2 linked regions of the Homo sapiens genome follow. The protein of the gene in region 2 purifies or fractionates together with the protein of the main gene of each other region. This does not show direct contact. Each region holds a gene or a part of one and is shown on either strand. Other genes may lie near its edges. The genes, in order: TMEM59 and AKR1C1.

The links.
Region 1: the proteins of AKR1C1 (region 2) and TMEM59 purify together in Homo sapiens (co-immunoprecipitation; one large-scale study listed by IntAct). This does not show direct contact.

The regions. Positions count from the first base shown.
Region 1 is NC_000001.11:54,036,205-54,039,704, forward strand, and holds part of TMEM59 (transmembrane protein 59 isoform 2 precursor), read right to left. Parts: intron 515-3,500; coding exon 406-514; intron 1-405.
Region 2 is NC_000010.11:4,961,965-4,966,512, reverse strand, and holds the start of AKR1C1 (aldo-keto reductase family 1 member C1), read right to left. Parts: upstream 3,099-4,548; 5' UTR 3,069-3,098; coding exon 2,985-3,068; intron 600-2,984; coding exon 432-599; intron 1-431. UniProt on the Homo sapiens protein: Cytosolic aldo-keto reductase that catalyzes the NADH and NADPH-dependent reduction of ketosteroids to hydroxysteroids.

The sequences.
Region 1 (3,500 bases), on a different chromosome or scaffold from region 2:
TAGGAAGCAGAGGTTGCAGTGAGCCAAGATCCTGGCCACTGCACTCTAGCCTGGGTGACAGATGAGACTCTGCCTCAAAAAAAAAAAAAGTCTTCTTTCCCATATATCCCCTAGAAACTGATGTCAACAGGTCTTTTCAGTCTTAGAGAGTCAGAAAGAGACACCGTTCTCAAGCCAGTCAACATATATGTCACCACGGTAGTTAGCATCACAGAAAGCTGAGAACAACAATTCTTGTGCTGCAAACCTGTAATTTTTATGTGTGCCAACCTCTACCACATTAAAACCACCACATCTTCTCTCTTTCTATTAGTAGAAAGGCCTTGTTTTTCCAGCTAAACAAATAAGGTGTTTAAAATGATATATCACAGGGCTCAGTCTTCAAATGGTAAGAATTAAATTTACCTCAGAGGGAACATACTGCTCCACAGCTGTAGCAACAGTTGCACAACAAATCCAAAGCAATACCATCACCGAGAGGACAAGAGTTGTAGTTAAAATCCACCCAGAGTTACTGGAAAAAAAAAATCAACAATTAGTTATATTAAAATTTTATAAGAAACAGGAAATTCTTAATTAGTCAACCTTATGTACTTAGCTCAACAGTACAATTAAAACTTTGTTGGTTATCTTTGAAACTATTAAAAAACATACTTACAGAAGGAAATATTATACTAATAGCTATTACATTAGGTTGGCATAAAGTCTTTTTCCTCCACTTCTAATGTTTCTGTAACATGGCTATATCACTTTTGTAATAATAATAAAATCAGATATACTTGACTTTCTGCTAAATATATAAGGCAAGTGAAAGTGTCCTGTAAATTGTACACTGTTGTACAAATGTCATATATTATTTTGCAAGTTATTACGATACTTGCTTTAAGAAAACCAATATACCAAAAAGTTAAGGTATAGAATAGGTAAATTTAAAATGATCATTTGTTTTATAAAAGAATTCACACCAGGCTTCCAGAAGTCAGTTTCCCTAGAATACTTTACATATTCAATTTGCCATAATTTACTTATACTTCAATTTAAAAAAGCACAGCTATTATAAGGCATTCTGTAACCATTACAGCATATCTCAGTAAAGAGATAGTTATATTTTCCTTATAATTAAAATATCTTAAGACAGAAGGCCAGTTATGAGAATCAGCAATTAGAGATTTTTTATTTATTTTTATTTATTTTGAATTTTTATAGAGACAAGCTCTCACTATATTGCCCAGGCTGGCCTTGAACTCATGGGCGCAAGCCATTCTCCCACCTGGAGTTTTTTTCATAATTGACCTATTAAGATTCAAAGAATAGGAAAAAGTCAAGCCATTTTTAAATAATTAAAAGTCTAACTCTGACAAACTGTGTAATACAGATACTCCCTAATTTTCACATCTCTGCTCATCCAACACTGCCTAGTAAGAGATCTATACTTACCACCCTAATCACTCACTTGATAGTTTGCCAAGACTTGAACATGCAGTAAGCACAGTCATTGTTTGTCTGCCAGCAAAAGAGGTGGACTTTGGAGAATGTATTGTATCTAAAAGCAGGGAACTCCCATATGATTCTTTAAGTATCCAATTTAGAAAGATAATAGAGTAAAATATGTTTTTAATGAACAAATACCCACTTTCCTCTCCATGTTCCAGCCCTAAGTAACCTGAGTACTAAGGAATTTACCACAAAATGAGGATATATTTGATATCTAGATTCCAGTAGCAACTACCTAAGCCAGAAAACTGGGGCTCATCCCTTCAATCTCCACAACAAAACAATGACTAGATCCTACAGATTTTCAACTATCTCCATTATCTCCTGTTCTTATCTACTGCCCTAATCCAGACCTCATAATTTCTTCCCTGATTTACCAAAGTTCTCCAACCTGGTCCTCTAATCTATCCTTCACATAGAAGCCTCTTCTTGACACTTATGTTCCTGATTCTCTCTATTCCTGTTTTCCCAGTTCAGTCAAATTTCTGACTCTCCTTATCCTCCATATATAGTAATGTACCCTATACACATTGAGCAGGAGGCCAGTATATCTGAAAAAAAAATTTTAAGTAAATCTTCTGCTATAACTAGCAAAAATTTCTACTCATCACTTGAGATATTTCTATCTCACCTGTCAATCCTCCCCTTGAAACCTCCAGTAGACTTAAATACAGTCCTTATATGCTGTGTATGAGACATGTGTAGGACTGTGTGTGTGTATAGCAATCATTATTGTCCATGTCTGTTTAGATCTGAGAACTCCTGACATCTTTACTAGGTCTCAACTCCCTAGCACAGTGCCTGGCTCCTCAAAAAGAAATGCAAGTGAAGAAAGAGTGACCTCAATTTCCATTCTGGAGACAAGGGTGTCTCTTTAACAGCTACGACCAGATTCCAATAACTGGCTGAGTGATTCTGTATGTAATCATGGAAAAATCATGACACTTTAGGAAGTAAATAGTTACAGCAGAATAGGATGAGCAGAAGATGTACAGTTAGAAAAATTAGGTTTGAATGCTAACATAGTGACTGTATAACCTTGCGAGTAGTCAATTCACCTCTCTAAATCACCACCTACTTATCACAGGGTATTGTTCTAAAAGTCAAATGGGATCACTGAAGGGGAAAAAGCATTTAAAAAAAGAACACTTAAAAAAATAATAAAATTTGAGACAGTCTCGCTTTGTCACTCAGGCAGTGCAATGGCACGATCACAGCTCACTGCAGTCTCAACCTCCTGGGTTCAAGTGATTCTCCCACCTCAGCCTCTTGACAACTGGGACTACAGGTGTGTGCCACCATGTCCAGCTAATTTTTTTATTTTTTGTAGAGATGGATGGGGTCTCACTATGTTACCCAAGCTGATCTTGAACTTCTGGGCTCAAGTGATCCTCCCACCTTGGCCTTCCAAAGTGCTGGGATTACATGCATGAGCCACCGCACTCGGCCAAAAGAATAATTTTTATTCAAATGTAGGATCCTATTATAATTTATGTTTGGGCACAGAAACTTCTAAGAAATACATTTCTATAAATACATTATAAAGTTAGTTGCTTCACAAAATTACTTTTAAAGTGTTAGATGTAAAAAAACAACATAACATATAATGACAAAATGTTAAAGGTCAATAAATCACCAATAATATGCCAGGTAGTACAGTACTGAGAACTGTAACTTAAGATTAAATAATTATTTAGGTTTCACAGAACTATCAAACTGCAACATACATCCTAAATACTGGAAAGAAAAACTGCCCTTTTTTGGACAAGCTCAAAACCAGGTTTAGAAATGAACGAAGGATAAAATTTAAAGTTTAATCCTTGTTTTCTCACATAGTCTTTAAACATTTTGCTTAGTAAAAAGTATTAATTTGTAAGGTCCACATAATTGTAATGATATATGATAAAACCTCTCAAGAAACTGTTTCTATAAGAAATTACAGGGAGCATGTGATTTGGACTACTGCAGTTTTATACTTGAGATAGAACAGTCCACTAGAATGAACA
Region 2 (4,548 bases):
ACAATTTGAGATAATGTAGGCGTTATTCTTTAATACTCACAGAGCTTGCTTATATTGCTTTCTCTCTCTATGATCAACATAATAATGGAAACTGAGAATCATAACAAGTGTAAGAAACTCACCCAGGAGGTAAGAAATAATATAATATGATTAGGATTTTTTCTGATTCTATAGTCTATGTTAAACCATATTGATCTGTGCTGAGCTCAAAAAGTAAAGGCACTTTGAAGGCATGAATTGGAACACTGCAAAGATGAGAAAGCCATCTTCACTTCCTGCCTTTGATATTAGTTTTAATACATGAGTAAGTGTGAATAAATCGTAATAAATAAGCACAATTCACCCTATACTATGGATCCAGTCATAGAACTGCCACCTCCACACAATCACAATAAATACATGTGCACACAAGCTCATCATAGGCACAGTACCTTTGAAGTGTAGAATATGTCTTCTCTCTTCACACTGCCATCTGCAATCTTGCTTCGGATGGCCAGTCCAACCTGCTCCTCATTATTGTATAAATGAGCAGAATCAATATGGCGGAAGCCAGCTTCAATTGCCAATTTGGTGGCCTCTAAAGCTTTACTTTTAGGAACCTGGGGGAGTAACCATAGGTAGTATTTTCTGACTAATGTGCCTGAGAGTTAGTTCAGGCACAAGTAGCGACGTTCACAAAAATCAGCTTTTCCTCCTTTCTTGGATGAGTTCTGTATGTAGAATCATGAGCCCATCCCAGTCTCCCTGGGTCTTTCCCAGTTAGTAATAAAGGTTGGGCACAGCAGGAACTTCTGCAGTCCCAGAAAAATCACTGCTTGACCACTAGTTTGGAAGTGTCCCCAAAACAATTTCAGGTTCAGTCATTTTTTGGAAAAATTAACAGGATGCAACCTATAGTTATAGATATAATCTTAATTATTTTTAGTATGGTAAAATTAACACAAGGAATGGCCAGGCGTGGCGGCTCACACCTGTAATCCCAGCACTTTGGGAGGCCGAGCTGGGCGGATCATGAGATCAGGAGATCAAGGCCATCCTGGTTAACAACTCCATCTCTACTAAAAATAGAAAAAATTAGCCGGGCATGGTGGCAGGCGCCTGTAGTCCCAGCTACTGGGGAGGCTGGGGCAGGAGAATGACGTGAACCCAGGAGGCGGAGCTTGCAGTGAGCTGAGGTCGCACCACTGCACTCCAGCCTGGACGACAAAGCGAGACTCCATCTCAGAAAAACAAAACAAAAACCAAACAAACAAAAAAAGAAATTAACACGAGGAAATAGCCACATGGAAGGAAATATGAAGGAATACAGTGTAAGCTCCTGTGATTCCTCTCCCACCATATTGCACAGAATGCACTGACTTTACCCGGAATCATATTTTGTCAATGTATGTGAACTGTTGTCTACAAGAGATGCTCTCTACATACTCCATTACTAAGATTTTGTCTGGGACTGGTTACATTGACTCACTCTGCTTCGCAGGCACAAAACTTCCAAAAGTCTCCAAAAGGAAAGCAGGTGCACAGAAACTCCGCAGTTTGCACAAGCAGTTACTTACAGCCACCATTCTTATCAGTTAGGAAATAGTGAGAAATCCACCTTATCAGATACCAGCAGGTTTATATGGGAAACAGGCCTGTCTATGGATAGCAGTCTATTATGTCAAGTCTTTTCTACACAGCCATTAGCCATTCTGTCGGCATGACAGAACTAAATAGTAGGTGTAAAAATGTATACTCTAAGGATATTGATTTGTATAAGAAATAGACTGCAAGGAGTAAGTGATTAGCAAAATGGGGTTCAGTTCCATAAGTTCAAGGCAACTCTTTTAGGAAACATATGATTGCAGTGAAATTTACAATTATTGACTTACGTAACAAATTTGGATACAGATTTGAAAGTATATCTTTTAAATGACAAAAACAGAAACAAAGCAAACTGTTTTCCTATCTGGAAAGTATTTCAGAGGCTTTCTTTTTCCCATAGAATTACAAGGAACTAGATACTGGGTCTCACAGCCCTCTCCTCATACCATCCTTGATCATTTCTTTGCTGTATGAGTACTCAAAGGCTTACCAAAGCTGGAGCTTTAGTGGTATCCTCATCTTTACTTCCTCTCCATGTCAATTTATATTACAAAGTAAACCACTCCTGTCAATGGTCTTCAAAATGTCCCTTTGTAAATCCTTATATTGTATAGATCAGAAATGTGAAACCCAAATTTTATGTAACTAGTCCCTATTCACACACATTGTATTCCCAAGACAGTCTTGAGATACAAGTTTTCTTCCAGTGTAGAAATAGCTAAGTCTAGAAAAGAAAATCTATTCCATTAATTTTCCTGTCAGAGAAACAAGAAATTTTTCTGTTACAATATTTTGATACAAATTTGACCCATATTAACAAAGAAAAAGAATTTAAATTTTCCTTGTTAGGTTCTAGTATTTTTTTTTTCTTAAAATGAGGATATTTTATCGTTTCAGGTAATTTTCCCAGAGGTGAGAATAGTACATGAGAAATTCTCTTTAGGCCAGGTCTAGTATTACAGTGTGGTGCTCAAGGCCGCCCATCAGAACAGTGATACTCTCCCAACAGATTTCATCCACCCCGTCTCCACTAACTTTTGCCATAAAAATTCCTCTGAATTGTATCTTCTTGGAAGAAGTAAATATCTGTTCGACTATACAAAGAAACAGAGAAACCACTCCCATTGCAATCAATCTTCAAGAGAGGGAGCAGGCAAGCCGTGTTCTTTCTGCTGAGTTGTATAGACTCTGACAAGCTGTGAAATAAACATAAACAGAAGACAAAACAGTGCCACAAATAAGCAGTAGATGACCCTGTGACAAGATGGCATTGCAGAACAAAGACTGACGTTTAAAGGGGAGTCATGCAGAGTAACATAGGAACACAAGCCTGACAACCTGGTCAGCTTCCACTTACTCTAGCTCCTTTGAACTCTCAACACTAAAAATATTATTGTTACCTCTGCAGGCGCATAGGTGCCAAATCCCAGGACAGGCATGAAGTGACCATCATTCAGCTTCACACACTGATATTTCGAATCCATTTCTGTCACTAGCCTGGCTGGCAAATGTTTCTTTCTTCCTCCCTCACAGGCTATAAGAGCAATGAGCTGGCAACGCCCCTGAGCACACTGTCTGCTGGTTAACCAATGGCATGTGAGAGGAGGGACAGAGGCAGTCTTACACAAGCTGTGATAAAAATTGCATCCAGTTCAACCGTTTCTTACCTAAGAAAATTCATAAGTAAATTATTATGTGGTCATGATACACTCATTAATTTCCTCTGAAGTATTTTTGCTATTCCAGATCTCTATATATGAGACATAAATTACTCAAAGAGATTTGTAGAACAAATTGTGACTTTACATAAGAATACAGAAACCTCTAGCGGCACAGCTCTTTTTTGTTTGTGTCATGATGATGAGTTCCTTCTGCATCTTGCAGCATTTGAAATGACTAATTTTCATTTTTCTCTCTCTCACACACACAATTTAAAGGAATGACTAATGAGCATTTCTTTAAAATATTGCCCTCAATTAAAAATTAAAGTTAAAATTTTTTAATGCATTACTTTTTTCATCAGCAAATTTATTGTTCCTTTCTTATTAGCCTTGTAAGAGAAACATCCCTTCCTGATCAAGGTGCAGTCCTGATAAAGTTGTAATCCTGATGTGGGTGTAAATAAAAAAGAAAATATGATGTGGTTTTATTGGAAGATTTCTTATTAACAGCTTTTGGACTTTGGATATAATTTGTAACATGCAAACAGTGCCTTATTTGTCTTTTCCAGCCATTTTTATGAATTGCTACCAAAAAGTAACAAGCCAAAATATGATAACTATTAGATATACTTTATAATATTGCTAAACATTATTCATAAAGAAAAACTGGTAACTAATGACATATAAACTGGTGAATAATCCTCGCATGGGATAATTTTTACTTTATTCTCCCTTTGGAGGTCAGGTTAAAACATGATTGTAATTTGCATGATCCATGATTCACATCTTGGAGTAGTCACAACTTGCAGTGCCCTGATTGCTTCTATTTGCTTTTTCATAAAACAAACAGAAATTGAAAAATAGGTAAATTGTTATCATTGACATAAATGTAATATTATAAAGATATTGAAATTTTTCACAGAGTAATTTCAACAAGATGGTGGATTCTAAGATTCCCATATAACTCATGGAAACATCAGAAAATACCTAAAATTGACTGAAATAAACTTATTTATTTCTGGAGTGGCTCAGTAGAGATTCAGGGTGACTATACACATACAGATGTTATAGGCAAAAGGCCAGGGGAAGAGACATGCAATAGTCCATCTAAGCCATTGAGGAGAAACTGGGATGCGAAATTTCATAATAGTAAGCAATTCAAAAGCCATTGGTTATTTGGGGATACATAAAAGGGCAAACACAGTCCACGTAGGTGCATGTTCAGAAACAAACTAAGAAGGACTTGAGGTTTTATGTAGGGCTGATGCCTTGACTGAGAACCTGCCACACATATAAGTTAATG